5 linked regions of the Homo sapiens genome follow. Changing the gene in region 4 together with the main gene of any one other region gives a genetic interaction. Each region holds a gene or a part of one and is shown on either strand. Other genes may lie near its edges. The genes, in order: ATR, AOC3, PTK6, BCAT2 and POMC.

Region 1 (6,548 bases), on a different chromosome or scaffold from region 4:
CAGAAAAAGAAAAAAATTCACTCTTTTTCTTTTACCACTATTTGAGATAATAAGTGGGGAAAATGTATGAACATTTTACAGTGCTATATAGAAATAAATTGTGACATATATGAAATATATGCTATTATTTATAAGTAACTGTCTTACTACACCCTAAGTTGTTTTGTCAGAAGTGATGGACTTTGCTAATCACTCACACATAACCCACTGTGAATCCTCTAGGTAGAGTTAATCATTCCCTGCTTTGGGTGTACATGATACTTGCTTTTGATTATTTATTTATTTATTTATTTATTTATTTATTTATTTATTTATTGAGACTGAGTCTCGCTCTGTCGCCCAGGCTGGAGTACAGTGGCGCGATCTCGACTCACTGCAATCTCCGCCTCCCAGATTCAAGCGATTCTCCTGCCTCAGCCTCCTGAGCAGCTGGGACTACAGGCGCCCGCCACCACACCCAGCTGATTTTTGTGTTTTCAGCAGAGATGGGGTTTCACCATGTTAGCCGGGATGGTTTAGATCTACTGACCTCATGATCCGCCTGCCTTAGCCTCCCAAAATGCTCGTATTACAGGCGTGAGCCACCATGCCCGGCCGCTTTTGATTATTTAAGTGCATTCCTCTCCTCTCCCCAGCAACTATTCTGAGTTCTTTGAAGCAGAGGATCTTGTTTTACTTGCCTTTTGAATTTATTAAATTATTTGCGTCTGTACCCATCCATTCTTTCTATGTTTATGAAAGAGTTACCCTCCTGTCCAAGGATTGTCTTTTTACTTATATCTGGTTCCAAGAAGAGGAGTCACATCTCAAGAATTGGTTGCTTAGGTCTTTCCATTATAAGGGAGAAACAAAACAAAGCCCTCTTGATCTCATACAGTTCTTTAGTTATCACCAACTCTACTTCTCTTCATTTCATGATCAAGCTTTGGAAAGAACCCGCTATTCTCAGTATTCACATTTCATTAGATTTTCAGCCCCTTGCAATCTGGCTTCTCTCTTTACTGCTACAGGAAAATTTTAAAAGTCCAAAAGGCATACAAATACCTAAACATAAGAACTAAAACTATGAAACTCTTAGAAGTGAACATAGAGGGGGCCGGGCATGGTGGCTCACACCTATAATCCCAGCACTTTGGGAGGCCAAGATGGGTGGATCACCTGAGGTCAGGAGTTCCAGACTAGCCTGACCAACATGGAGAAACCCTGTCTCTACTAAAAATATACAAAATTAGCCAGGCGTGGTGGTACATGCTTGTAATCGCAGCTACTCAGGAGGCTGAGGCAGGAGAATCGCTTGAACCCAGGAGGCGGAGGTTGCGGTGAGCTGAGATCGCGCCATTGCACTCCAGCCTGGGCAACAAGAGTGAAACTCTGTCTCAAAAAGTAAATAAATAAATAAAAATAAGGGAACATAGAGGGAAAACATTATGACACTGGATTTGGCAATGATTTCTTTGATATGACACAAAGCACAGGCAGCAAAATAAACAGATAAATTGGAATTCATCAAAATTAAAAACTTTGTGCATCAAAGGGCAGTATCAATAGAGTGAAAAGGCAACCCATGGAACTGGAGAAAATATTTGCAAATCATATGTCTGATAAGGAGTTTAATATCTAGAATATATTAAGAACTCCTACAGCTTAACAACAAATATAACCTGATGAAAAACAGAAAAAGAACTTGAATAGACATTTCTCCAAAGAAGATATACAAATGGACAAATAAGCACATGAGAAGATGCTCACAATTACTAATCATTAGGGAGATGCAAATCAAAACCACAGGATACTGTTTCACACCCATTATGATAGCTATTAATAAAAAAACAGTTGGGGCTGGGCATGTTGGCTGATGCCTGTAATCCCAGCACTTTGGGAGGCTGAGGCAGGCGGATCACGAGGTCAGGAGATTGAGACCATCCTGGCCAACATGGTAAAACCCCATCTCTACTAAAATACAAAAAATTAGCCAGGCATGGTGGTGCATGCCTGTAGTACCAGCTACTTGAGAGGCTGAGGCAGGAGAATTGCTTGAACCCGGGAGACAGAGGTTGCAGTGAGTTGAGATCATGCCACTGCACTCCAGCCTGGTGACAGAGCAAGACTCTGTCTCAAAAAAAACCAAAAAACAAAAAAAATCCCACAAAAAAAAAACACAGTTGGGCATGGTGACTCATGCCTACAATCCCAGCACTTTGGGAGGTCAAAGCAGGCAGATCGCTTGAGCCCAGGAGATTGAGACCAGCCTGGGCAACGTGGTGAAACCCTGTCTCTACAAAAAATACAAAAAATTAGCTGGGTGTGGTGACATGCACCTGTGGTGCCAGCTACTCAGGAGGCTGAGGTGGGAGGATCTCCTGAGGCTGGGAGGTTGAGGCTGCAGTGAGTTATGGGTGCACCACTGCACAGTAACCTGGGCAACAGGGTTAGACCCTGTCGCCAAAAGGGGAAAATAAAATAATAATAAAAAAACACCCAGAAAATAACGTGTGTTGGTGAAGATGTGGAGAAATTGGAACCCTTGTCCACTGCAGGTGGGAGTGTACAATGGTACAGCCACTGTGGAAAAGGGTATTAGCGTTCCACCAAAAATTTAGTTTTTATGTGCTTCAGAAGGGAGGAAGTGAATGCTAATTGGTCCATAGGCAGTCATGGGTGGGCCTGGAAAAAGCACCCTAAGTTCTCGCTGTGGTCCGTGTAACTGGCAGCCAGGCTTCCAGGCTTCAAGCTGTTCCTGGCTTGAAGGTGGGTCTTCACTGGGGACCCACCCCTTTCCTCCCAGGAGCCTACTTCCTGCTGCCATCAACCTGCCACCCACTACACCGAGGCTGTTCGTGCCGAGGGGCGCCTGCAGGCCCATATTGAGCTGCCCTCAGCCTACCGCTTGGCCTGCCCAAAGTCCAGAGGGAGATGAGGCAGCAGGGGGCTGGTGTGTCAGTGCCGTCCTGAGCACATGCACACGCGGCCTGGTCCTGACAACACCTGGGCTCCCCCACAACTTTGCTCCGAAATTGGTGTGGGTGCCGGGAGCGGGGAGAGGCCAGGCAGCGGGAGCAGGCATTTCCAAGTCTGTGAGGGCAGGGGGCCTTCCCGGCCCTGGAAAGAGCAGGGATGCCTGGGTTTGCAGCCGTGGTTGGGCGGCTGCAGCTGCACCCAGGATGGCTGGGCTCCCGACCCTGCAACTCGGAAGGGGGCGGGGCTTCCACCTGTCTTGCACCTCAGAAGGGGGCGGGGCTTCTGCCCACTAGCGCCCTGGAGAGAGCAGCCCTAGCACCACCTTCCTCACCGCTCCAACTGGGCTGCCACTGCCATCAATAGCACATTTCAATTTGTACTAATCACATTTCAAGTTCTCCCTAGTTACTTGTAGCTAGTGGCCACCATATTGAGAAGTTCAGGTCTAGGCTTTGCTGATTGGATCTCTTTAGTATTACTTAGCATATTCTTTTTTTTCTTGTAAGTTGGTAACATATTCAGATTTTCTTTTCAATTTTTAAACAGAAGAATACTGTGAATATCAACATTGACACTGAACACATTTGATGAGTTCTACTTTAGAGAAATTTTTTTTGCAAATGAAACTGAGTCACTTTAAGGATTAAAAGCTTTTAATTTGTATTTTAGTGCCACACCAGAGGAATATAATACAGTTGTACAGAAGCCAAGACAAATTCTGTGTCAATTCATTGACCGGATACTTACAGATGTAAATGTTGGTAAGAAACCAATTATTTCTTATATAAACTTTATAAATTAGACTTTTCTTTTCCATGTATAAATTATAGTAGCATTTTCTCCATGTAGTTTTAGATATGGAGTATTTATGATAGTTACTATTTTCAAGCAAGTTATTTGTTAATCAGTATTGCTTATTGCTTGTTACAAAATTTGAATTAGGCTTTTAAAATAATTCTCTTTTCCTGTTTGTTATCTAGATTTTCTACTGCTTGCTATGAGTTCTTTAATATTGGATATTATATGTAAAAATATTTGTCCAGTACCAATCATGTGGACCCTATTTTGGTTAGCTGTTATGCCAGTGGTAGACTAATAGCAAATGCCACCCAAAAAAACCTCTTTAAGTAAGTTACTCTTTAAGTAGGTTCATGCCTGTGCCTATAGGAGATTATAGGATTATGTGAGTTACTGAATCAATTATTGCCTGTTTGTGCCAATCTGCTAGACAGAATATTACCAACCTGGCAAGATGGTGTCACATTTGTCATATCTGTTGAAATTACATGGGAGGGATAATATAAAATGGCATTAGGCTCAGGGTTTATAATTTGGATTCCAAATTTGGCGCAGATTTTATGACTTAGACTAGCCATTAATCCTTTCTTTTTCAATCAGTAAAATGATGGGTTGCTGAAAAATAACAAAGGACTACTGAATACTTACAAGATGTGTTTTTGTATCGTATTCATATTCCCTCCGTTTAGACTACTTGCCCTTCCCCTCTCTGACCAACTCCTCATCTAGGAATCATTTCCTTCACAGTGTCCTCCCAGATACCTGTTTCTCCTTATTCTGGATTAGTGCTGTTACCATATTGTATTATAATTATTAGTTGGTTTGTTTGGCGCCCCACTGGATTGTGAGAACTTTTTTTTAATCCTTAGATTTTAGCATTGCCTGGCATATTATTCCTGAAGTACATGTTTGATAAATAGATGTATGGTAGAGGAATGCATGTGATTTTTAAACATTTAAAATTAGATAAGACTGTAGTGTTGGCTGGGCACGGTGGCTCACGCCTGTAATCCCAACACTTTGGGAGGCCGAGGTGGGTGGATCACCTGAGGTCAGGAGTTTGAGACCAGCCTGGCCAACATGACGAAACCCTGTCTCTACTAAAAATACCAAAATTAGCTGGGTGTGGTGGCACACACCTGTAGTCCTAGCTACTCAGGAGGCTGAGGCAGAAGAATCACTTGTACCCCGGAGGCACAGGTTGCAGTGAGCCAAGATCACACCACTACACTCCAGCCTGGGCAACAGAGTGAGACTGTGTCTCAAAAAAAAAAAAGACTGTAGTGTTTAGCCCCATCAATTTAGCTTGAATGTTGTTGAGTGCTGTGCTGGATATAATTCTGGTCACCAAAGTCTGGTTCCCCACCCCCACCCCACTTTTTGTTTTTTTTTTTTTAATTTTAAGAGACAGAGTCTTGCTTTGTTCCAGGCTGGAGTGCAATAGTGTGATCGTAGCTCACTACTGCCTTGAACTTCTGGGCTCAAGGGAATCCTCCAGCCTCAGCCCCCTGAGTAGCTGGGACTATAGGCACACTACCACTCCCAGCTAATTTTAAGAAAAATTTTTTTTGTAGAGACGGGATCTTGACATCTTATCCAGGCTGGTCTTGAGTTCCTGGGCTCAGGTGATCCGCCCACTTCAGCCTCCCAAAGTACAGGGGTTACAGGAGTGAGGCACCTTGCCTGGCCCACAGTCTGGTTTCTTAACAAAAGGACCATTGTTTAATTTGTCATGACTCTTTAAAATGAATCTTATTGTTTTAGTTGCTGTAGAACTTGTAAAGAAAACTGACTCTCAGCCAACCTCCGTGATGTTGCTTGATTTCATCCAGCATATCATGAAATCCTCCCCACTTATGTTTGTAAATGTGAGTGGAAGCCATGAGGCCAAAGGCAGTTGTATTGGTAAGTGCTGTTATTCATGCATTCACTTGCCATCTGTTCTATAAAATCCTCCTTTTACTGCTCTTCTGAAATATTACATGTACAGGATTATACTTTTTTGGGTCAGCTTTGCTATAAATTGAAGGAGCAAAATGGTAATGGTTATTTTTCCTTCACATATCCTTATTGTTTTCTTTTTAGTATTGTATACTAGGTACTTAGAAATAATCAAATTTGTTTATTTGCCATTGAACACTTTGGCATGGTTTTCTTTTTTCTGTTTTTGGTAATCTCTTTCTTCTAGATCAGAGCTTGGCAAGCTGTAGTCCACAGGGTGGCTGCCTGTTTTTGTGAACAAAGTTTTGGTGTTTTGTTTTGTTTCCTTTTTTTTTTTTTTTTTTTTTTTTTAAATAAGACAGGGTCTCGCTATGTTGCCCAGGCTGGTCTTGAACTGGTAGACTCAAGGGATCCTCCTGCCTCAGCCTCCTGCATACCTGGGACCATAGGCACATGCTACTGTGCCTGGCTTCAGTTTTTGTAAACAAAGTTTTATTAGAACACAGCCATGCTCATTCTTTTACTTATTGTCTGTGACTACTACAAAGGCAACTTGGGCACTCAAGCCAAAAATATTACTATCTGGTCCTTTAAAAAAAGTTTGCTGACCGCTATTCTATATATTGAAGCTTTTCTCTAGGCTTATTCTTTATTGCACCTACTACTTTTGTCCCTTCATTGGTGTCTTCATAAAGAGATGCAAAATAAACATTTTTTTTGTATAATGGATAAAGTATTTTAAAATTTTTTGTTCAAACTTTAACTCAACTTTGATAGCATGTCCTCCAAGAAGTTTTTTTCTGAGCACTACTTCTAACTGCTTAGAACTGGCTTGGTTATTCCTTTATTCT
Region 2 (5,261 bases), on a different chromosome or scaffold from region 4:
CCTTCCTCGTGGGAAGCGCCACCCCTCGCTACCTGTACCTGGCCAGCAACCACAGCAACAAGTGGGGTCACCCCCGGGGCTACCGCATCCAGATGCTCAGCTTTGCTGGAGAGCCGCTGCCCCAAAACAGCTCCATGGCGAGAGGCTTCAGCTGGGAGAGGTGAGTGGCGGGCAGTCAGAGAGGAGGGGGGCAGTGAGAGTGGGAAAGGAGTGTTGGCGGACACTCAGCTCACACTGTAGGTGAGGGGAGAGCTCTCTCAGGAAGGCTTTTCTTTTCCTTTTTTTTTTTTTTTTTTGAGATGGAGTTTTGCTCTGTTGCCCAGGCCGGAGTGCAGTGGAGCAATCTCACTGCATCCTCCGCCTCCCAGTTTCAAGCGATTCTCCTGCCTCAGCCTCCCCAGTAGCTGGGATTACAGGTGCACGCCACCACACATGGCTAATTTTTGTATTTTTAGTAGAGATAGGGTTTCACCATGTTGGCCAGGCTGGTCTCGAACTCCTGACCTCATGATCCACCCTCCTTGGTCTCCCAAAGTGCTGTGATTACAGGCATGAGCCACAATGCCTGGCCAAAGGTTTTTCTAGTTATCCAAAGAAACCATGATGGGCACATTTTCCCCTTGGAGGCTAAAGCCCAGGAGTGAGAACTCTCTTCTGTTTTGGATGGGAGAGGGGTTGTACTGTTAAATGGCTGGGGATAAACAGGAGGACTTGACCCCCCTTAGGGTGACGTCGGGGATTCTGTAGCGCCGAGTCAGTTGTGTGACTGCAATTGGGGAAGCTGAGCTCTGAGCACTCAGTTCCCTTTCATCATAATCAGGCAGCAGGATGGGGTCAATGGCCATGGAGGCCTGACCAGTGCCTCCCTAGGTACCAGCTGGCTGTGACCCAGCGGAAGGAGGAGGAGCCCAGTAGCAGCAGCGTTTTCAATCAGAATGACCCTTGGGCCCCCACTGTGGATTTCAGTGACTTCATCAACAATGAGACCATTGCTGGAAAGGTCAGCTGGCCGGGGTAGAGGGTACAGGATGAGCCTTGCTTTCTCTTGGGAGGGTCCCTGAAAACCACCTGCACTTCTCAGGGGTGGTGCTGATTCCTGCCTTCTGCACTTCAGTATATCTGATCATTATCCTTTGAGGGAACCTTCCTGAGCTGGGTGTCCATATGCAGACACTGAGTGAGGCCCTGGGCCTGTCCTTGAGATCTTAGAGCCCTCTTAGTTCCAGTTTCATGGACTGAGTCCTTTCCAGGCTCCAGGACTCAGGAGGGATGGAAGTTACCAGGGAAAATGACATCTCCTGTATCTGAAGCTTCTCCCATTCCTGACTTGATGAATTTCACAATGTTGGCCTGGTTCTGCTTCCCAAGCGCTGGTTCTTTTTCCTCCACCCTTCTTTCCTCAGTTGTGGGGAACTCTTGGAGAGTTAGGGGAAGAGGAGCTGAAGTAGCCTGTGGGTGTCACCCTCTGGGGGTAGATAGGCAATGGGCGATATGATGGGAAATGTCAGAGATGGAGGCTGCAAGCCAGGGACAGGGAAGCAGGTGTTCCTAATATGAAATGGACTACTTATGCTTTGACTCCTACCCAGCAGGAAAAAATGTTTAAAGACTCATGATCCTTGGGCTGGTGAGCTGAATCCCTACCAGGGCATGTCCTCAGCAAAGCCAGACCTCGTGATCCTCTTTCTTCTCCCCTGCTAGGATTTGGTGGCCTGGGTGACAGCTGGTTTTCTGCATATCCCACATGCAGAGGACATTCCTAACACAGTGACTGTGGGGAACGGCGTGGGCTTCTTCCTCCGACCCTATAACTTCTTTGACGAAGACCCCTCCTTCTACTCTGCCGACTCCATCTACTTCCGAGGGGACCAGGATGCTGGGGCCTGCGAGGTCAACCCCCTAGCTTGCCTGCCCCAGGCTGCTGCCTGTGCCCCCGACCTCCCTGCCTTCTCCCACGGGGGCTTCTCTCACAACTAGGCGGTCCTGGGATGGGGCATGTGGCCAAGGGCTCCAGGGCCAGGGTGTGAGGGATGGGGAGCAGCTGGGCACTGGGCCGGCAGCCTGGTTCCCTCTTTCCTGTGCCAGGACTCTCTTTCTTCCACTACCCTCCCTCGCATCCGCCTCTGAGCCAGGAGCCTCCTGACCCTGTGATGCCTGACACAGGGGACACTGAACCTTGTTGATGCCAGCTGTACTGAGTTCTCATCCACAGAGGCCAGGCATGGCCCAGCCTGGAGCCGTGGCCGAGGGCTTCCCTAGATGGTTCCCTTTGTTGCTGTCTGGCTTTCCCGAATCTTTTTAGGCCACCTCCAAGGACTCTAAAAGGGGGCTATTCCCTGGAGACCCCAGAGTAGGGTTGCCAGTCCTGCAAGTCCATAGCTGAGCTGGAAAGGATGCTTCTGCTCACATTCCCTCTCATCCAGGTCCTTTCCTTCTCGTCTTCCTCTCTCTCACCTACTTCCTCCTCCTCCTCCTGTTCCTGCCTTCTCTTCTATCCTGCAATTTCTCCCGAATCCTGAGGGGATATCCCTATGTCCCAGCCCCTGGTACTCCCCCAGCCCTCAGTTTTCAGTCAAGTTCCGTCTCCTCTCCAGCCCTATGGAAGTCTCAAGGTCACGGGACCCCTAATCAGAGTGGCCAATCCCTGTGTGTCGTTCCCTTGTGTCTGTTGCTTATTGGGAGTAGGAGTTGCTCCTACCCCTGTCCTGGGGCTGGGTGTGTTTCAGGACAGCTGCTTCTGTGCATTTGTGTCTGCCTGCCTCATGCTCTCTATAGAGGAGGATGGTCATCGTGACAGCAGCAGCTCAAGTTAGCATTTCAAGTGATTTGGGGGTGCAATGATAATGAAGAATGGCCATTTTGTACCAGGGCTCTGTATTCTGCAACAGCCTGTTTGGGAGGCTGGAGTGGAAACAAAGGGTGGGCATCAAAGATGAGAAGCCAAAGCCCCTACAACTCCAGCCACCCAGCCAGGAGGGGCTGTCCAATCACATTCAGGCATGCGAATGAGCTGGGCCCTGGGTGAGGTGGGGGTCTGGCCTAGTGGGGAGGGGCCTGGCCTGGGTGGGGCAGGGCCTGGCCTGGTCCAGGCTTGGGCTCCATTCCCATCACTGCTGTCCCTCCTGAGGTCTGGATTGGGGATGGGGACAAAGAAATAGCAAGAGATGAGAAACAACAGAAACTTTTTTCTCTAAAGGACTGGTTAAATCAATTCTGATACAGCCTTACAATACAATAGTATGCAGCTAAAAAATAATTGTATGTCTTTATATACTAATATGTAATAATCTTCAGGTGAAAAAGGCAAGCCACAGAAATGTGTATAGCGCACTTCCCATTTGTGTTTCAGAAAGGAGTAGAATATAAACACATAATTGCTTATGTATGCCTATTCAGAATAAATGGGTAACACTGATTACTTTTGGGAGGGGAACCAGTAGGTTGAGGACAGGAGAGGGAAGGGTCTTAACACTTACACCCTTTTGTACATTTTGAATTTTGAACCATGTGACTGTATTACCTATTCAAAATAAACAATAAATGGGCCCAAACAGGAATTGACTTTTTTTTTTTACTGACACTTTTTTTTTTGGTGGGGAACAGGTTGGGGGTAGGGTAAAGTGGGTTAAGGAATGGGACCAGGGATGAAATTTTCTCCAGTTCTTGAGATCCAGAGAAGCAGGTGTGGCCTCTAGTAACTCCTTTTGCCTTCTCATGCTTGTACATCTTTGAGGAAATGTTAAACCTCGGTTAATTCCCTGACACACACACACCCCACCCTTTCCCTCTCTCCTGTCTTCTCTCTCTCTCAATGAGGGGCAATGAGAAGCAGTGAGGAGGGGTGACTTCTGCTTGCCAGAAGCCCAGGCCAGGGCAGGAGGTAAAGTGCAGGAAACATTCTGGATGCCACTCAGCTTCTGACCAGAAAAAGACCAGAATATGTTCTGGGAGCTCCAGCATCATGGAAGCTTCTGCTACCTTCTGTTCTGCCCCAAGCCCAAGTTCTGCCGTAGGTCAGTGGAACAATGGATGGGGAGGAATCAATGAGCTGGAGAGAAATTAGGCTCTAAAGAACAGGAAGAAAGCCTTCAGTAAGGAGCAGGGGGCCTTCAATGGCATAGTAATTCATAATATGGCCAGGAGTGGAGGCAGGAGTGAAGGAGGACAGGGAGAGATGGAGAGAAGGGCAGACTCAAGACAGAGATGCAGGAGAAAGGGGGATGCTGTGGCCTGCTGGGACACTGATGCAGGCTTCATAATCCCTCTGACCTGAGGACTTGAACTTTCTTTTTTTTTTAATTTTTAATTTTTGAGATGGAGATTCACTCTTGTCACCCAGACTGGAGTGCAATGGCACGCTCTCGGCTCACTGCAACCTCCATCTCCCGGGTTCAAGCGATTCTCCTGTCTCAGCCTCCTGAGTAGCTGGGATTACAGGTGCTGCCACCACGCCCGGCTAATTTTGTATTTTTAGTAGAGACGGGGTTTCACTATGTTGGCCAGGCTGGTCTCGAACTCCTGACCTAAGGTGATCTGCCTGCCTTGGCCTCCCAAAGTGTTGAGATTACAGGTGTGAGCCACTGCACCCGGCCTGAACTTCTCATTTCAATGCATATCCTCTTGTCCCCACCTCCTTACGGCTCTTTCTTATGGCTACTTGCACCATCATCAGTGCTGGGGGAAGGGGAGCAAAGGAATTCAGATATCCACCCCCGCACCCTCACCATCTTGTTCACTGGAATTTAGTTGCCTTGAAACCCATCTCCAGACCAAAGTGTTTGTATGTGTTGTGTGTGTAGTTGTATGTCAATTCTCACAAGCTTTTATATGAAAACGTGACTGGTTGTGTCTGCTTCCTTATATCTCAGCATGGTGATGATGCCACCTGCCCCAGGCCCCAGATGAGGGGAGGCAGAATGGACATCTAGATTGTTAGAACATCAGTTCAGCTCGGGTCAGGAGGGCCGCAAGGTGGACCTCCAGCCCCACACCCCAATCCAATCTCTTCCTTAGACCACAGAAGTTGTCTGGAGTCTTGGCTTCAGACTTGTGGTCAATTGTCTAGGAGTGATTACTGGCTGAGGATGTCAGGTTCTGAAGGAACTGGTGCTGCCAAGGCTCAGATCTTCAGGACTTGGGGCCCAGTGGCCTGAGATAAAGGAGTTGGACAAGGGAATCCCTGAGGCTTGGGTCAGAGGGCATGACTAGGACTTCTCCAGGAATGTGAACATGGCAACCCCCTGTGAGGACATGAGGTGTGC
Region 3 (6,486 bases), on a different chromosome or scaffold from region 4:
CCCTGTGGGGCCGGCTGCATCTGCCATTTCGTGGCCTCGGGAGCCAGGTGCCCTGTCGGGGGCAGGAGGTCTGTGTGTCCTGCACAGCTGCTGGGTGTGATGGCTGCTGTGTGTGGGGGCAGGGCCTTGGCCTCTTCCTTGGGGCCTGGGGGGTCAGGGGCTGCATCCACCGAGGCCACCCGTCCCCGCAGACAACCTCCTGCACCAGCAGATGCTGCAGTCGGAGATCCAGGCCATGAAGAAGCTGCGGCACAAACACATCCTGGCGCTGTACGCCGTGGTGTCCGTGGGGGACCCCGTGTACATCATCACGGAGCTCATGGCCAAGGGCAGCCTGCTGGAGCTGCTCCGCGGTGAGTGGCATGGGCCGGGGCTCTTGCTGGAGGCAGCGGGGGCACGTGAGGAAATAAAGTGCACACCCCCCCCCCACGTCTACACACACACACACGTAGACACACAGACACACAGACACACACATGCACACACAGACACAGACACAGACACACAGAGACACACACGCACAGACACACATGCACACACACATGCACACAGACATACACATGCACACACAGACACACACACAAGACACATCACATGACACACACAGACATACACATAGACACAGACACACACACAGAGACACACAAAACAGATCACACGGACACACACAGACACACACACAGATCACACGGACACACACAGACACACACACACACAGACACACACTGATCCAGACACACACACAGACACACACAGATCACATTGGCTCAAAGACTTCATCCTCTCTAAGTTCCATTATTTCCTTTCTCACCAAAACCAAAGACAATCGCTGCCAGGGAATGGAGATGCCCGTGCGTGAAGGCGCAGTTTGGATTCCGATGTTAGAATGGGAGGGAACGTTGTGGTATAGGAAAAATGCCGTGTGTGTCTGAGGAGAGCTACACTGAGGCACCACGCACGTTTGCGCTCTGAGCGAAAGGCTCCGTACCCCTCGCCCTCACACAAAGGGCTTGATCATCTCAGACAGTCCCCACGCCCTTCAGGGTCCTCCGGGAGGGAATGTGGGGTAAAACAGGCACCACCAGGCCGCAAGCCGCTGACAGCCATTCTCCTGTTCGAGTTCCCACTGCCTACATCACGCAGTCATGAGCCTCTTCGCTGGTCCTTCTGCGTCCAGCTCCTCCCGCGTCATCACAAACTTCCAGAAGGGAAATCGCTGGGCTAGACCACTAGGAACTGCTCCTTGGTTCTTTTTTTTTTTTTTGAGACGGAGTCTCACTCTGTCGCCCAGGCTGGAGTGCAATGGCGCAGTCTCGGCTCACTGTAACCTCCACCTCCTGGGTTCAAATGATTCTCCTGCCTCAGCCACCTGAGTAGCTGAGATTACAGGCACCTGTCACCACGCCCAGCTAATTATATATATATATATATATATATATATTTTTTTTTTTTTTTTTTGAGACGGAGTCTGGCTCTGTCGCCCAGGCTGGAGTGCAGTGGCGTGATCTCGGCTCACTGCAAGCTCCGCCTCCCGGGTTCACGCCATTCTCCTGCCTCAGCCTCCCGAGTAGCTGGGACTACAGGCGCCCGCCACCACGCCCGGCTAATTTTTTGTATTTTTAGTAGAGATGGGGTTTCACCGTGTTAGCCAGGATGGTCTCGATCTCCTGACCTCGTGATCCATCCGCCTCAGCCTCTCAAAGTGCTGGGATTACAGGCGTGAGCCACCACGCCCAGCTTGCTCCTTGGTTCGTGATAAACAGTTGCCTTCCAGAAGGGCGGTAGCTGGCCTGCAGTTCCAATTTTCAATCAGGCCAGCTGCCCTTTGCCCCGGCCCCTCCTCTGAGCCCGCAGAGCTTGGAGGCAGATGAGACATGGCCCAGCCTCCCCAACCCTTCCCCACCTCAGCTGGCTCAGCTGACCCCAGGCTCTGCTCCACTCCCCTCTGCAGACTCTGATGAGAAAGTCCTGCCCGTTTCGGAGCTGCTGGACATCGCCTGGCAGGTGGCTGAGGGCATGTGTTACCTGGAGTCGCAGAATTACATCCACCGGGACCTGGCCGCCAGGAACATCCTCGTCGGGGAAAACACCCTCTGCAAAGTTGGGGACTTCGGGTTAGCCAGGCTTATCAAGGTAGGGCCCTCAGAGGGCGTGGCTGGGGTCGTGGCCGGGGCGTGGCCGGAGGGCTGGGGGCTTCCTGTGTGTGGAGCTGGGGACTCGGCTGGGAGCAGGATGCGGCCCCTGCCCTCGGGAGCCCAGGCTGGGCAGGGAGGTGGGAAGCCACCGTGAGTCCGGTGGGGCCCCCATTCTGAATGGCACGCACAGCAGGGCCCACCACGCAGCCGCTGCCTTGTTCACGTGCCTTGTTCACTGGCCCAGCCCTGGGCCCCTCTGACGGCCTGGGAGCCTCCCAGTTCCCTGTCCCCCGGGCCCTCCGGTCCCCACACACCTGCAATCCCAGGGGAAGTTGGGCTCCTGAAGGTGGTCAGGCCCCAGTGTGGCCTTAGCTGCAGCGGCCGTGCGTGGGTCAGACAGTGGGGTCATCACCGTCCCACTGCTGGGGCAATGCGGCCGCTGTGCCCGTCCATGCTTCGGGGGCAGGGCACAGGCAGCCCCCACGGCCCACTCAGCTCCAGGCTGATTGCAGGAGGACGTCTACCTCTCCCATGACCACAATATCCCCTACAAGTGGACGGCCCCTGAAGCGCTCTCCCGAGGCCATTACTCCACCAAATCCGACGTCTGGTCCTTTGGGATTCTCCTGCATGAGATGTTCAGCAGGGGTCAGGTGCCCTACCCAGGTACTGTCCCCACTGTCCCTGACTGGGCATGAGAGGCAGAGTGGGGGAGGTCCTGGGTAGCCGGCAGGGACGCTGGGGGGTGCCTCCCCCACGGGCTTCAGGGCCCTCCGCGGGCCATCGCCTGAACTCCACACCTGCACCATTCTCTGAGCACCCAGGCTGGTGCCTGGAGCTGCCTGTTGGAGCCCTGTCCAGAGGGAGGTGTTAGCAGTGGACAGTGTGCTGGGTGGCGCCAAGGCATGGCAGCTGAGGCTGCGGGGAAGGCCCCAGGAAGGGGCAGTGGATGGCTGGTGTGGCTTCTTGGGGGAGGGTAGGCAGGTGGGCCCCAGCTCTTCTCATCCCTGTCGGCCGCAGGCATGTCCAACCATGAGGCCTTCCTGAGGGTGGACGCCGGCTACCGCATGCCCTGCCCTCTGGAGTGCCCGCCCAGCGTGCACAAGCTGATGCTGACATGCTGGTGCAGGGACCCCGAGCAGAGACCCTGCTTCAAGGCCCTGCGGGAGAGGCTCTCCAGCTTCACCAGCTACGAGAACCCGACCTGAGCTGCTGTGGAGCGGGCATGGCCGGGCCCTGCTGAGGAGGGGCCTGGGCAGAGGGCCTGGACCTGGGATCAAGGCCCACGCGCTTCCCTGGGGTTTACTGAGGTGATGGGTGCAGGAAAGGTTCACAAATGTGGAGTGTCTGCGTCCAATACACGCGTGTGCTCCTCTCCTTACTCCATCGTGTGTGCCTTGGGTCTCAGCTGCTGACACGCAGCCTGCTCTGGAGCCTGCAGATGAGATCCGGGAGACTGACACGAAGCCAGCAGAGGTCAGAGGGGACTCTGACCACAGCCCGCTCTCTGGCTGTCTGTCTGCAGTGCCCGGCTGAGGGTGGGAGGCAAACACGCCTTGTTCCTGCTCTTCCCAGTTCAGCTTGGTGGGAGAAAGTCATTCGCGTGGCTCGGGACGCTCATGTAAATTTGGTTTTGGTGCTCAAGGGTTCTTTCCTCCCAGGGGCAGGTGTTTCTTTCCTGTTTGTCTTGTGTCTTGAGAGCTTGGCCTTATGACCAGTGAGAACTCTCTCCCTGGTCTCTGCCAGCCCAAGCATCACTGCCCGAGGCGCCAGCTCAGTTTCACCGTCCACGTCCACAAGGGGCTTTTCCCACCTTCACCTTTGTCGCTGGGTCAGTGCTGGAAAGCGCCCCTCACTCCTGCGCTGACAAGGGCCCTTCTCTACTGTCTGTGGGGTGGTTCCGGGCTGGGGGGGCTGCCTCCTTTGCACCTGATTTTGAAGGTGTCTCTTTCATCCATGGTTAAGTCATAAAAAGCTTATTGGTTTTGGTTTTGACTCACCTGAAAGTTTTTTTGGTTTAAAAGAAGAATAGGCGGGGCACGGTGGCTCATGCCTGTAATCCCAGCACTTTGGGAGGCTGAGGCAGGTGGATCACGAGGTCAGGAGATCGACACCATCCTGGCTAACACGGTGAAACCCCGTCTCTACTAAAAAATACAAAAAATTAGCTGGGTGTGGTGGTGGGGGTGGGCGCCTGTAGTCCCAGCTACGTGGGAGGCTGAGGCAGCAGACTGGTGTGAACCCGGGAGGTGGAGCTTGCAGTGAGCCGAGATCGCGCCACTGCACTCCAGCCTGGGCGACAGAGCGAGACTCCATCTCAAAAAAAAAAAAAAAAAAAAGAAAGAAAGAAAAATAATTTTGGGAGTTTCTGGAAAGGTACTAGGATTTCTCAAAAGGATTTGTCTTCTGCCTTGTGAAAGACAGATGTCAGACTAATCAGGCTTATCCGATGTGCTACATGAGATGGAAAGCGTGTGAAATAGTAAGTCACACTAAGTCTTCTGGAGGTTCTATTTACGGGTTTGGTTTTGATATGAATGTTGCAGAAACTCTATAAAATTCCTAGAAATCTGATACGTTATCCTATGATATATATCCTATCTCACATGCTATTCCTAGAAATCTGGTGCAATGTTATCAGTCATAATTTTGGTTATTACATTAAAATGCTGCATGCCACAGAAATAACCAAGTTTCCTTGCCAACCGTGTCACGAATATAATAAACTCTCATCAGATCCTGAGCCATGGCTATCTTAAGTCTTCGGTCATTCACAGTTATTATCTTACTTTGATTTTTTCTGAAAGCTTTGCAATCAGCTAGTCCCAAATTGTTTATTCTTCAAAGAGATTCCTGGGAAGGATTCTGACAGGTGCTCTGGAGCACAGGTTTCTGGTTCAGGTCATAGCCTTGGATTGGGTGCAAATTTCCAGAACTCGAAGGAGGGACCTGGCAGGTCCATGAAAGTTCTGTCCCAGGATCAACCAGAACAAGAATTAATGACATGGGAATGAATGAACTGACGAGGATGTTTACTGTTTAATGACTTTTGTCTGAAGCATTACGGTTCTTTAATATTTTGTTTTCCAGATGTAAGAAAACGTTTTTTGTTTCTGTTTTTGTTTTTGAAGACAGGGTCTTGCTCTGTCACCCAGGCTGGAGCGCAGTGGCGTGACCACAGCTCATTGCAGCCTTGAATTCCCAGGCTCAAGTGATCCTCCCGCCTCAGCCTCCTGAATAGTTGGGACTACAGGAATGCACCACCACACCTGGCTAATTTTAAATTTTTTTTTTTTTAGGAGATTCAGGGTCTTGCTATGTTGCCCAGGCTGGTCTCGAACTCCTGGGCTCTAGCAATCCTCCTGCCTCGGGACTACAGGCCTGAGCTGCTGCGCCCAGCCTGGGCACGAAAGCCGTCTGTACGAGAGTTGCTGGGGAAATTTCTCTGAAGTCTGTATCAAGTGGGGCAGCTTCAGCTTACAGGGCTTTGGGAAAAGAGCAGTTTTAATTTTCAGTGACTCCATGAGGAATGGTGGAAGAAAAAATTGGAAAGAGTGGTTTGGTGAGCTGTAGGCAAATATTGGAGGAAACTGAAGTTCAGGACCCGGTCCGGACCACAGGTGGGCGACAAAACCTCCAGACAGCAAACCGGGCTAGAGTCTAATAGTGGGGGCACGAGTTTTATTTTGAAACATAATTTTTCTCTCTACAGTCAACAAATTTCTTTTTCTTTTTTTTTTTTTGAGATAGAGTTTCGCTCTTATTGCACAGGCTGGAGTGCAATGGCTTGATCTCGGCTCACGGCAACCTCTGCCTCCCGGGTTCAAGTGATTCTCCTGCCTCAGCCTCCCGAGTAGCTGGGATTACAGGCATGCGCCACCACGCCCAGCTAATTTTTGTACTTTCAGTAGAGATGGGGTTTCTTCACGTTGGTCAGGTTGGTCTCGAACTCCCGACCTCAGGTGATCCACCCACCTCGGCCTCCCAAAATGCTGGGATTACAGGTGTGAGCCACCGCACCCAGCCAACAAATTTCCTTCTTCCTTTTTTTTTTTGAGATGGAGTCTCGCTCTGTCGCCCAGGCTGGAGTGCAATGGCGCAATATTGGCTCACTGCAACCTCTGCCTCTCGGGTTCAAGTGATTCTCCTGCCTCAGCCTCCCAAGTCTCTGGGATTACAGGTGCCTGCTACCACGCCCGACTAATTTTTGTATTTTTAGTAGAGATAGGGTTTTGCCATGTTGGCCAGGCTGGTCTCGAACTCCTGACCTCAGGTGATCCGCCCACCTCGGCTTCCCAAAGTGCTGGGATTACAGGTGTGAGCCACCGTGACCGGCTGCAAATTAACGCAT
Region 4 (6,281 bases):
GATTTTTCTATCAGGTTAGGTTTTAAAAAATTCATCTGGGGCTGGGAAGAAGAGGCAGGGGGATTGCTTGAGCTCAGGAGTTCAAGACCAGCCTGGGCAACATAGTAAGACCCTATCTGTACAAGAAATTGGAAAAAAAAAAAAAGTCCAGTCGTGGTGGCTCACGCCTGTAATCCCAGCACTTTGGGAGGCCGAGGTGGGCGCATCACCTGAGGTCAGGAGTTCAAGACCAGCCTGGCCAACGTGGTGAAACCCCGTCTCTACCAAAAACACAAAAATTAGCCGGGCGTGGTTGTAGGCACCTGTAATCCCAGCTACTTGGGAGGTTGAGGCAAAAGAATTGCTTGAACCTGGGAGGTAGAGGTTGCAGTGAGCCAAGATAGAGCACTTCAGCCTGGGCAACAGAGTGAGACTCCATCTCAAATAAAATAAAAAATAAAATTCCCAATCCAAGATATAAAACAGTTATTTTTGTTTCCTTCTATAGCTTTTATGGTGTAATATATATATATATATTTTGTTTAGACTTTTAATGCACCTGGAATTTTTTCTGGTGTGAGGTGTGAAATAGAGATTCAACGTAGTTTTTCTCTAGATGGATATTTGGTTATCTATTCCATTATTCAGTCTGTCCACTCATATAGCAGTGTCACTCTGTTTTAAGTATTGTAGATTTATAATGTTTTACTACCTGATATGGCTACTCCCTGCCCCTGCCCCATCTTGCCCCTCATTTTTGTGGTGGTGGTTTTTATCCCCCCAAAATATTGTAGCTAGTTTTGCTTGTCTTCCATTCATTTATCTATTCATTCATCAAAAACCCACTATGGGAAAAAAAAAAAAAGTCTGGCTGGGTGCAGTGGCTCACCCCTGTAATCCTAGCACTTTGGGAGGCTGAGGCGGGTGGATCAACTAAAAATACAAAAATTAGCTGGGCGTGGTGGTGGGCGCCTGTAATCCCAGCTACCCAGGAGGCCGAGGCACAAGAATCACTTGGACCTGGGAGGCGGAGGTTGCAATCAGCAGAGATCACGCCACTGCACTCCAGCCTGGGTGACAGAGTGAGACCCTGTCTCAAAACAAAACAAAACAAAACAAAACAAAAAAACACTCTGTGCCAAGCGCTGCCTACCCTGGTGCATGGGACTGCAGGAGAGGCTGTCTGGTAAACGTGTCAAGGGTAATCCCTGCCTTCCAGGCTCTTCCACTCTGCAGTGGAGCAGATGCTGAACAAGCAAACTTGGAACCATGGGGCAGTGATCAGGGACAGAGTCTCCAGAAAAAAAAAACTAGGTCCCAGGCTGGAGTGCAGTGGCATGATCGTGGCTCACTGCAGTCTCAAACTCCCAGGCTCAAGTGATCCTCCCACCACCTTCCAAATACCTGGGACTCCAGTCACGTGCTACCACGTCTGGCTAATTTTCGTATTTTTTGGTAGAGATGGGGTCTTGCTATAATGCCTGGGCTGGTCACGAACTCCTACACTCAAGTGATCCTCCTGCCTCGGCCTCCCAAAGTGCTGGGATTACAGTGAGCCACTGAGCCCGGTCGTGTCCTTTGCTTTCTAGAGTCTCCGTGTGTCTCTACCTGTTTGTCTCCCTGTCTATATCTGTCTCTCTTTTTCTCCATCTCTCTGACCCAGCTGCTAAATCTCCCCGGTGCTCTCCTCTTGGCCTCCATCTTTCAGTTGTCTGTGTCTTTGTGTATCTGTCTCTGTCTGTCTTGGTGTCTCTCATGACTGTCTGGAGAAGTCTCTGAGCCTCCCCACCCGCGTGTCCCCGCAGCTGTTTGAGGGCATGAAGGCGTTCAAAGGCAAAGACCAGCAGGTGCGCCTCTTCCGCCCCTGGCTCAACATGGACCGGATGCTGCGCTCAGCCATGCGCCTGTGCCTGCCGGTGAGGGGTCCCGGTCCACCGGGGTGGGGAGGAGGGCTGGGGCCGGGGCAGCAAGGGCCCCTTGACTCATTCAGAATCCCACCCAGAGTTTCGACAAGCTGGAGTTGCTGGAGTGCATCCGCCGGCTCATCGAAGTGGACAAGGACTGGGTCCCCGATGCCGCCGGCACCAGCCTCTATGTGCGGCCTGTGCTCATTGGGAACGAGGTGGGCCCAACTCCAGGGCTGGGAAGCTGGGCTGCGGGGGTTGGATTCTGCAGGGCAGGGGTGGGGTCCTGGAGGCCTGGGCCTGGGGACGGGAAGGGACTGGGGGCCTGGACTCCTGACGCTGTCCCTTTGCCCGTCGCAGCCCTCGCTGGGTGTCAGCCAGCCCACGCGCGCGCTCCTGTTCGTCATTCTCTGCCCAGTGGGTGCCTACTTCCCTGGAGGCTCCGTGACCCCGGTCTCCCTCCTGGCCGACCCAGCCTTCATCCGGGCCTGGGTGGGCGGGGTCGGCAACTACAAGTTAGGTGGGTAAGTAGCACCCCCATCCCCAGAACGACTGGCGCACTGGGCGTTGGAGACACAGGGACCAGCGTGCGTGCTTTCGGCCATGCCTCTGGATGTCACATGAAGGTGACATCATCAGCACCGTGCAGGGCTCAGTGCTAAGTGACCTCCCTGGTCCCTGAAAACAAACCATGGAAGGAAGGAGGAGGGGATTATTTTTCAGATGGACAAAAAGGCTCACAGATGGGAAGGCATTGGGTGGAGGTCAGTGGGGAAACCAGGACTGGTCCCTGGAAGCCTCCAGGAGTGAAGCTTACACTCAGCTCATTGGCTTCTCGCCCCAGAAGCCTCCCCTGATCCCCCAGGCTGGGCTGCGCTCCCCATACCCAGCTCCCACAGTCGTTTGAGCCTCCAAAGCCCCTCACCCCCGTGTGGACTTTCTGTGTAAATCTGTCTCCCAGTGGCCTCAGCTCAGCAGGGCAGGAAGGAGACAGCTGGGTCTCCTGGGCAACCAAGGCAGAGGGTGGGCACTGGCGTGTTGGGACAGGAATGTGGCCCCAGCTGGGGGTGCATTCAGGTCCTTTCAGCCACATCCTGTGAGGTCTCCTGAGGGCCAGGCCCTGTGCTGGCAGAAGCTGGGGACACAGATGAGTCAGCCCCGAGCCCTGCTCTCCTGGGTCTCCCAGGCTGGTGGGAGCCCCAGTATTCGGAGCTGCATGTTCTCTGGTGAGGTGACCCAGGGCATTGTGAAAGCCTTCACAGAGGCCAGAGGCGGTGGCTCACGCCTGTAATCCCAGCACTTTGGGAGGCTGAGGCGGGCAGATCACGAGGTCAGGAGATCGAGACCATCCTGATTAACACAGTGAAACCCCATCTCTACTAAAAATACAAAAAAAAAAAAAAAAAATTAGCCGGGCTTGGTGGCGGGCGCCTGTAGTCGCAGCTACTCAGGAGGCTGAGGCAGGACAATGGCGAGAACCCAGGAGACAGAGCTTGCAGTGAGCCGAGATCGCGCCACTGCACTCCAGCCTGGGCGACAGAGCGAAACTCCATCTCAAAAAAAAAAAAGAAAGGTTTCGCAGAGGAGGCGACCCTTCAACTAGGTCTGACGAGGAGGGAGGAGGGGGTTTCCTGGGTACAAAAGTCAGCAAACTGTTTCCAGTCCTGGGAACCATGTGTACAGGGACAGAAGGAATAGGATCACAGAAGATGTTCAGGTTACAAAAATAAGTTTGGGTTTTGAAAAATGCTTAGCAAGTATTCATTAGACCCAGGCAGGCCTGGAATGCCGGAAGGAGGCTAGGGTCTTGTCCTGGGGCACTGGGGAGCCATGGGAGGCTTGTTAGCAGCTGAGGGGAGAGGCTATCTCTGGGAGAGAGACTCAGAAAGTCATCCAGGTAGCCCAGTTCACTGGGGGAGTCCAGGGAAGGTCCAGCACCCAGCCTGGAGGTCTGGAAACACCTCTCGAGGAGGTGACAACAGAAACGGTTTTGGAGCCAGGCGCGGTAGCTCACGCTTGTAATCCCAGCACTTTGGGAGGCCGAGGTAGGCGGATCACTTGAGGTCAGGAGTTTGAGACCAGCCTGGCCAACATGGTGAAACCCCGTCTCTACTAAAAATATAAAAAGTAAGGCCGGGCGCTGTGGCTCACTCTTGTAATCCCAGCACTTTGGGGGGCTGAGGCGGGCATATAAATATAAATGTGAATATAAATTAGCCGGACATGGTGCTGCATGCCCCAGTTACTCCAGTTACTCAGGAGGCTGAGGCACGAGAATCGCTTGGACCCGAGAGGCGGAGGTTGCAGTGAGCTGAGATCGCACCACTGCACTCTAGCCTCAGCCTGGGCGACAGAGCAAGACTCTGTCTCAAAAAAAAAAAAAAGAAAAAAAGAAAAAAAGAAATGGTTTTGAATGACAGCTGAGGATTTGGTCAGTATGAAATGGGTGAGGGCTGGGCGCGGTGGCTCACGCCTGTAATCCCAGCACTTTGGGAGGCTGAGGCGGGCAGATCACCAGGTCAAGAGAGGCTGAGGCAGGAGAATCTCTTGAACCTGGGAGGCGGAGGTTGCAGTGAGCCAAGATCGCACCACTGCACTCCAGCCTGGGTGACAGAGCGAGACTCCGTCTTAAAAAAAAAAGAAAAGAAAAGAAAGAAAAGTGGGAAGAGACAGGAGAGAGGGGACATAACCATTTAGGGTCCTGATGCCAAATGAAAAGTCAAGGATTCCATCTCAGGGGAACTGGGGAGCCCTGTGAGAGCTGTGAGCAGGGAGACGGGAGAGAGTAGGATGAGCCTCCTCTGGGGCTGGGCTGGGGAAGGATGGGGCTCCCTTGCCCCACCCAACCAGACTGCCCTCCACCAGGAATTATGGGCCCACCGTGTTAGTGCAACAGGAGGCACTCAAGCGGGGCTGTGAACAGGTCCTCTGGCTGTATGGGCCCGACCACCAGCTCACCGAGGTGGGAACCATGAACATCTTTGTCTACTGGACCCACGAAGATGGGGGTAAGCCCACCCATGACCCAGCCCGAACCCTGGTGGAAGTGGGTGGCACCATCATTCCTGGCAGGTTACAGGCCCCAGGGATTCTGGGATGGGGGAAGGGGGTGGCTCTTAAGACGGCGGTGCTAGGGGGTGAGAGGTAACATCTTCCACCCCTTACACCTGCCCTAGTGCTGGAGCTGGTGACGCCCCCGCTGAATGGTGTTATCCTGCCTGGAGTGGTCAGACAGAGTCTACTGGACATGGCTCAGACCTGGGTGAGGACATGGCATCTTCTGGTGATGGGCGCCATGTGCCAGGGGCCAGGGCATCAGAGGGCTGGGACTGGGGCACACTGGCATGTCTCTGCCCCTTCTCCTGGGTCTGTCTCTCCCGTTGGGCCTCTGTCTTTCTCACTATCCTCAGGGAGGGAGAGGTGGAGGTCTGCAGCAGGGCAACCCTCTGGGGACACGTGTCTCTGCCAACTGCCCTGCAGGGTGAGTTCCGGGTGGTGGAGCGCACGATCACCATGAAGCAGTTGCTGCGGGCCCTGGAGGAGGGCCGCGTGCGGGAAGTCTTTGGCTCGGGCACCGCTTGCCAGGTCTGCCCAGTGCACCGAATCCTGTACAAAGACAGGGTGAGGCGGGGCTGCCATTGTGGGTGGGAGGGAAGGAGGGGAGGGGCTTGGTCCTCACCGCACCTTCTGTCCCAGAACCTCCACATTCCCACCATGGAAAATGGGCCTGAGCTGATCCTCCGCTTCCAGAAGGAGCTGAAGGAGATCCAGGTGAGCTGCAGGGAGCTGGGGAATGGGCTGGGAGCTTGTTCCCTGGAGAAGTTGGTGTCCCATGAGCCCCTGGACTAACAGCCAGCCTCCTTCAGTAGTACCAGGAACAGATAATGGCCTTTCTTATTGAGGCCCTGGAGAGTGGGCTTTCTGTGCTGCTCTGTGGCCTGGAAAACCCCTTGGGGCTAAATCACCCTTTCCTGGGAGCTCCCGGAGCCCTGGATATGTCTTCAGCTTTGGAAACCCCTTCCTGTGATCCTCTGCGGCTCCTGGGTGCCCTGGTAGGAGAAACCCCCTCTCCGTGGGCCTCTGAGGCCCCTGGGTGCCCTGGTGGGAGAAACTCCCTCCCTGTGATCCTCTGCTGCCCCGGGTGCCCTGGTGGGAGAAAGGCCCTTTCCATGAATCACTGAGACCTTAGCCAGCCCTCTGGCCATCTCAGAGGTTGGCCTCCCAAGATTCCCTGGAGCCCTGGGCTATCCCTTTGGCCGGAGAAAGCTTCCTCCCATGAGCCTCTGGACCTTGGCCCCTCTCTGGCACCAGACTGTTTAATCCCATAAATCTCTGGGGGTATTCCCATCTTCTGGGCCAAGATCTCTTTCCCAAGAATCTCTGGGCTCCTTTCCCAGA
Region 5 (5,658 bases), on a different chromosome or scaffold from region 4:
TCTAGTTTCGGATGCCCTCAACAGAACCGGGGTGGACGGTTTATGGCGCAGATCCTGGGTTGAGGGCACGGGCAGCCATTTGGAATGATCAAGGCTCAGGTAAGGGGCGTTTCCAGCGAAGGAGAGACAGTCCACTTGGCATTTGGATTCCCCAAATTCTTCATGTTTAAATGGGGCAGGGAGGGTTCTTACAGAATGGCTGGAAGGAGCCAAGGAAAATAAAAGTGTGTGTGGATTTTTTTTGTGTGTGTGTCAGTTTATAAACTCTGCACAGATTATGGCCACTTTAATGACTTACTGTTCCTTTGATGCTTTTGTTATAGGACTCGATGCATGTATGTCATGGTGTAAGGACAAAACTCGGCCCCTGTGCTCCTCTAATCTTTACAAAAGGTCATGGCCAGCGTGCAGTTTTACAGTAACAAGCAAAATGATTTGTTGAGCTCATAGAGAGCCCCTCACACCTATGAAGTTCTAATAAGTGTAGTTCTACTATAAAGTTAATCTCAGGATGAGCAAATTTCAAGTTTCTATTTTTCCAGAGCTTTCCATTTTTGGATTATAATACTTTCCCTACTTAAAAAAGCACAACATTTGATATTTCCCCAATAATTTGTTGCTTTAAAAATGACACAAAAGGTACTATTTGTTCATTGTAGAGAACTGAAAATACACATAAGCAAATACACATACACATAAGCAAAATATACAATACAAACACAAGACCATCTTTCAGGGAAGAATCTGAAGTTTTAGCAATAGCAGCCATCTAACCAGTTTAGCAACAGAATATAAGCTCTGAGAGGGTGGGAGTGAATATGTTACCACATTGTACAACACAGCACATAGGGCATAAGGAGGGGAAATGCTCTCTGGGGCTTTCCAGGAAGGCCTGAAGTCATTGCTTCTAGCAAATGGAAATCACTCCAGAGTAGTTATCTTTGACAAGAATTGAAATATAATTGAGGGAACTATCAGACCTGTAAGATTTTGTTTTTTCCTTTACTAATATGTTACTTTACATTTGCATTTGGTGACATACGTAACTACCATTTTTCTGTGACTGTAACATCTGGGCATTTTTCAGAGCTAAATGTGCTATGGTCAACTTGGAGCTTTAATCTAATTGCCTGGTCCACCAAGTTCTGGCTGTGTACTTGAATAGATCACTGGCAGGGTACAATGGGAACAGCCTGTCCCTTGGAGCCAGGAGAGGACACCAAGGTTGACCAAAGCTCGTTCAGTTGCCCCTTTAGCCGAAGCGCACCTGGGCCAGTCACTGGCTGCCAGTGCCATCTAATGGCTGCTCTGAAAATGCTCAGCCTTGCCCGGCAACCCTTCAGAAGCTAGCACCGTGCAGGCCCAGCGCCTGGGGAATAGGGCGAGGGTGGGGTAGAGAGAAGGAAGTGGCCTCCTGAAGTAGAAATCAGCGCTTCAGAGGACTTTCACTTCCAAAGCCTCCCCTATATAAAAAAGATTTGGCCCACGCCTCCCCAAATGAGAGATTTATTTTAGGCAAACTTATTTTAAAATGCCAGCGTTCATTAGGAGTGACAAGACACTTAGTCATCCACGCTTTAATGTGAATTACTTTTCTCATCTAATTACATTTCTTTCTAGCAGCTGGCTGAGAAGATCTTCTGAAATCCAAAATGATTGTAGGGTTGGCGGTGAGCTGATCTCCGGCCTCGAGGTGGCTTCAGGGGGCCCACCTGGTTAAGGGAAATTTGGCAGTGCGAGGGTAGTGCTGGAGAGAGGGGTGGGTACAGGGGGCTAGGGGCACCATGGATGCCCCCTCCTTACTGTCCCCTGGTGTCTTGACCTCAGCTTCTGCCCACAGGCACTTGCTGGATTCTCCAAAAGTATCTGCAGTGGCTGTTCCACCAGGAGGTAATTCCCTTCTGGTCTCTTTCCCCTCCACATCTGCATCCTCTTCAAATCCTGCCATTTCAGACCACATTTGAGAGCTCTAGAGAACAAGACATCTGACACGTGACGTGTCCAGAAGATGAGCCAGATTTCAAAGAACTGAGATCTGCTTTAAAAACGAAGCTCTCCAAAGTTACTGGAGTCTGGGTAATAGTGATCACCAGAGTAATTTGTGTGCAGGACATCAAATCAGGCTGCTCGAAATGCTGCCTAAATTGGCCAGTGGTTTTATTTGCTTTTCTGTCAACCTAATATTCATAGGAAATAGAGTTTCAGAGGAATGATAGGATCCTGGTGGAATAAAAAGGGAAAAGACCATCTTGAGCAGGAGTTTCAGGGTCCTCCGTTTTTCCCAAGTTACTTTCACTCCTGAGATCTTGCATGTTAGAACTACAGCTTAATGTAGTGAAATAGGAAAGTTCTCTGTTAGGAGCTTAGCCTTACCTTGTCATGGACATTAAAGTAATTGTCTCTCTTTGGGCTTCAATTTTCCCATCTCTCATGGGAAGGGCTGAACCAAGCAATCCCCAAAATAGCTTCCAGCCTTAACCTTTTTAGGGGTCTCGTTTAAATAGAAGATAACAGGGAAATGGTCACAGTTTACCCACCATTCCCTCCTCCTTATCACAACTTATACCACCGCTGTACTGCACACCTCCTTTCTCAGCATTGCTGCTGTCCTTAAAATGCCTTTAACTCCACAAGAGAGTGTGTTGTTAATGTTGGCTCAAGGTCCTTCCTGGTGAGTGGCCAACATTGTTTTGCTCCTTGCAGGGGTCCCACCAATCTTGTTTGCTTCTGCAGAGCCTCAGCCTGCCTGGAAGATGCCGAGATCGTGCTGCAGCCGCTCGGGGGCCCTGTTGCTGGCCTTGCTGCTTCAGGCCTCCATGGAAGTGCGTGGCTGGTGCCTGGAGAGCAGCCAGTGTCAGGACCTCACCACGGAAAGCAACCTGCTGGTACGTGGGCCATGACTGCCATCTTGGCTTAGACATTAGATGGGACTGGAGCTGGGAAAGCTCAAAAGAAAAGGGTGTGGGGAAAGGGAAATTCATTCCCAGTGATAGGCGTGATTCAATCCAGGGCAGGAGCAAAACTTTGCAGTGAAGTAAGAAATGGGAGAAGAAATCAGGGAAGGAAGCAGCTTCAGGGAGAGGGGTTGAGTCCACAATTTCTGCTTGGTTATCCTTACTTCTTGCCCCATCTTTTATGGAGACCTTGAACCCTTTAAGCTAGAGATGGTGCTATAAGAGCAATAATGGACCCCTCAATCTATTCTGTACTTTAAATCTTTAGCTTCCCAAACTATTCCTTTTTAAGAAGCTCATATCACTTGCCATTTTCATTCCATATTTCTTACCCTTTTATCTACTACCGGTTGCAAAACCAGCCAGGTAGTTCTTCAAATCATCTCTGGAAGAAGGAAAAACCAGGGGCCCTTTTTTTTTTTTCTTTAATTGGTGCCAAATGTCTCATGTTTATTCTGGAGGACTGGCCTTCTGCTGTGTTCCTCTACAGTCTTTCCAGAGCATGTGAAGGCCCTTTGCATCAGGCAGGAGCTCCCTCCAGGTCACCACAGGGTGTATGTATCTGCCTGTGGGGGGTGTGTGTGTGTGTGTGTTGGGGGGCATAAATGAGTAATGATGCCAAATCCAGAGATTAAAAGGCACACTGAGACCAGGCGAGATGGCTCATGGCTGTAATCCCAGCACTTTTAGATGCTAAGGTGGGAGGATTGCTTGAGCCCAGGGATTCAAGACAAGCCTGGGCAACATAGTGAGACCTCCACTTCTACAAAAAATAAAAAAGTTAGCCAGATGTGGTGGCATGTGCCTGTAGTCCTAGCTACTTGGGAGGTTCACTTGAGGCCAGGAGTCTGACGACACAGTAAGCTATGATCACACCATTGCACTCCAGTCTGGGTAACAGAATGAGACCTTGTCTCAAAACAAAACAAAATGAAACAAACAAACAAACAAACCCCCATACTGTTAGTGTCAGTGACCGGAATTTTAATCTTGTTGCCATCACCTGGCAGGTGCTGAGGGTGGAATGTACATAACTACATTCTGTGTATTTTGTCAATGCAGAAGCTGAGTTAAGGTGAAGATAGAATGAGGTCCTCAAAGACACAGACCAGTTTTCATGTGTAATATAAAATAGAAACAAAGAGCCCAGGGGATTCTGTGAGTTCCAGTTTGGAAAGACCCAAGAGTCTCTTGACTTGAGACACCCACAGCACAGCTCACCAGGGAGGGTGCACTGGACACAGTCAGGACCCATGGGTTCTAGACCCAGTTTTGAGGTGTGGGACCTTGACCAGGTCCTATCACCTCTCTGAGTCTCCTGTTTCACTATCTGTCCACGGGAGGGGAGTGTAAATTAGTTTTTTCCATTGTTAACGTTCCACAGAGTTGTAATTCTGAACACCTGGAGTAGGCAATGTCCAGCTCAACAGAGTGGGTAGGATCCTTTTATTTTCTCCTTTGCTATTCCCAAGAAAGAGAGCAGCCAGTGAGCTTTTCATCTTTTTATCACTGAAAACTCAAGGCTGCAGCCTATGCAGCCATTTTCCTAAGCTAATATGTACCACAATAGAGTCCTCTAGGGACAAGGAGCAGAGACACAGGTTCCACAGACGGTGCAATGGAAATAACGCTAGCTTTCCACCCCTCCCTCCAGTCAGAATGAGATTACAGGGAAATAAGCTTGCCCCAGAGCTCACTGGGGGATCTCTCAGAAATCAGCTCAGAAGTCGTGAAAGAACCAAGGTGCAGTTTTGGAGGCTTAGTGCAGAGATGGAGCTGGGGTAGGGCATAAAGTAGGTTTTTCATCACTGAGGTAAGGTTGAGGCATTATTTTTTATTTTTTGTTTATTTATTTATTTTTTTGAGACGGAGTCTCGCTCTATCACCCAGGCTGGAGTGCAGTGGCGCGATCTCCCCTCACTGCAAGCTCCACCTCCCAGGTTCACACAGGTTGAGGCATTATTAAAAATATGTTTAAAAATATGGGCCCTAGTAGCCAGACTTCTATCACCTGGAGAGATTATCCCCCAAATTTCAGCCCCACTCCCCTCCTGGACTTGAATTAAACCATATGTATTTATTCAATATTCTTTTTATTTATTTATTTATTTTTTTGAGACGGAGTCTTGCTCTGTTGCCCTGGCTGGAGTGTGGAGTGCAGTGGTGTGATCTTGGCTCACTGCAACCTCTACCTCCCAGGTTCAAGCGGTTCTCCTGCCTCAGGCTCCAGAGTAGCTGGGATTACAGGCGCCCGCCACCACACCCAGCTTATTTATTTATTTATACTAGAGATGGTATTTCACCATAGTTGGCCAGGCTGGTCTTGAACTCCTGACCTCATGTGATCTGCCTGCCTTGGCCTCCCAAAGTGCTGGGATTATAGGTGTGAGCCACCGTGCCCGGCCCTCAATATTCATTAAGTGCCAACAACTACCACCCGTCTGCCTTTCTTGGAGCCACTCCTTTATGTCAGGCATATAACAGTAAGACTTTGGTCCTGTTCACAAAAGCTAGGGGTGGCTAGATGGCTAGACAAACCATGGAATGGGATGGGAAGTGTGTTGCAGTTGCCAGGCAGAAGCATGAAGGGGATGGGACAAAAGAGGCAGTGGCAAGATCTTAGATGCCCACGAGTGCCAAGAAAGCAGGTGGGCAGACCTGCTCTGTAGGGAGGCCTCGACGCTTGACACGCCCGACACTGTGC

What was found.
Region 1: changes in BCAT2 (region 4) and ATR together harm fitness less than expected from each alone (positive genetic interaction), as found in Homo sapiens cells (one large-scale study listed by BioGRID).
Region 2: changes in BCAT2 (region 4) and AOC3 together harm fitness more than expected from each alone (negative genetic interaction), as found in Homo sapiens cells (one large-scale study listed by BioGRID).
Region 3: changes in BCAT2 (region 4) and PTK6 together harm fitness more than expected from each alone (negative genetic interaction), as found in Homo sapiens cells (one large-scale study listed by BioGRID).
Region 5: changes in BCAT2 (region 4) and POMC together harm fitness more than expected from each alone (negative genetic interaction), as found in Homo sapiens cells (one large-scale study listed by BioGRID).

Annotation. Positions count from the first base shown.
Region 1 is NC_000003.12:142,565,234-142,571,781, reverse strand, and holds part of ATR (serine/threonine-protein kinase ATR), read left to right. Parts: intron 1-3,627; coding exon 3,628-3,719; intron 3,720-5,520; coding exon 5,521-5,661; intron 5,662-6,548. UniProt on the Homo sapiens protein: Serine/threonine protein kinase which activates checkpoint signaling upon genotoxic stresses such as ionizing radiation (IR), ultraviolet light (UV), or DNA replication stalling, thereby acting as a DNA damage sensor.
Region 2 is NC_000017.11:42,854,574-42,859,834, forward strand, and holds the end of AOC3 (amine oxidase [copper-containing] 3), read left to right. Parts: coding exon 1-160; intron 161-820; coding exon of another isoform or gene 821-870; coding exon 871-1,000; intron 1,001-1,701; coding exon 1,702-1,977; 3' UTR 1,978-3,551; downstream 3,552-5,261. UniProt on the Homo sapiens protein: Catalyzes the oxidative deamination of primary amines to the corresponding aldehydes with the concomitant production of hydrogen peroxide and ammonia. Has a preference for the primary monoamines methylamine and benzylamine.
Region 3 is NC_000020.11:63,526,393-63,532,878, reverse strand, and holds the end of PTK6 (protein-tyrosine kinase 6), read left to right. Parts: intron 1-191; coding exon 192-353; intron 354-1,951; coding exon 1,952-2,133; intron 2,134-2,647; coding exon 2,648-2,801; intron 2,802-3,155; coding exon 3,156-3,343; 3' UTR 3,344-4,878; downstream 4,879-6,486. UniProt on the Homo sapiens protein: Non-receptor tyrosine-protein kinase implicated in the regulation of a variety of signaling pathways that control the differentiation and maintenance of normal epithelia, as well as tumor growth.
Region 4 is NC_000019.10:48,795,801-48,802,081, reverse strand, and holds part of BCAT2 (branched-chain-amino-acid aminotransferase, mitochondrial isoform a precursor), read left to right. Parts: intron 1-1,784; coding exon 1,785-1,895; intron 1,896-1,981; coding exon 1,982-2,101; intron 2,102-2,243; coding exon 2,244-2,407; intron 2,408-4,748; coding exon 4,749-4,891; intron 4,892-5,059; coding exon 5,060-5,145; intron 5,146-5,363; coding exon 5,364-5,504; intron 5,505-5,579; coding exon 5,580-5,654; intron 5,655-6,281. UniProt on the Homo sapiens protein: Catalyzes the first reaction in the catabolism of the essential branched chain amino acids leucine, isoleucine, and valine. May also function as a transporter of branched chain alpha-keto acids.
Region 5 is NC_000002.12:25,161,868-25,167,525, reverse strand, and holds part of POMC (pro-opiomelanocortin preproprotein), read left to right. Parts: intron 1-1,840; exon of another isoform or gene 1,841-1,890; intron 1,891-2,703; exon of another isoform or gene 2,704-2,733; 5' UTR 2,734-2,753; coding exon 2,754-2,885; intron 2,886-5,658.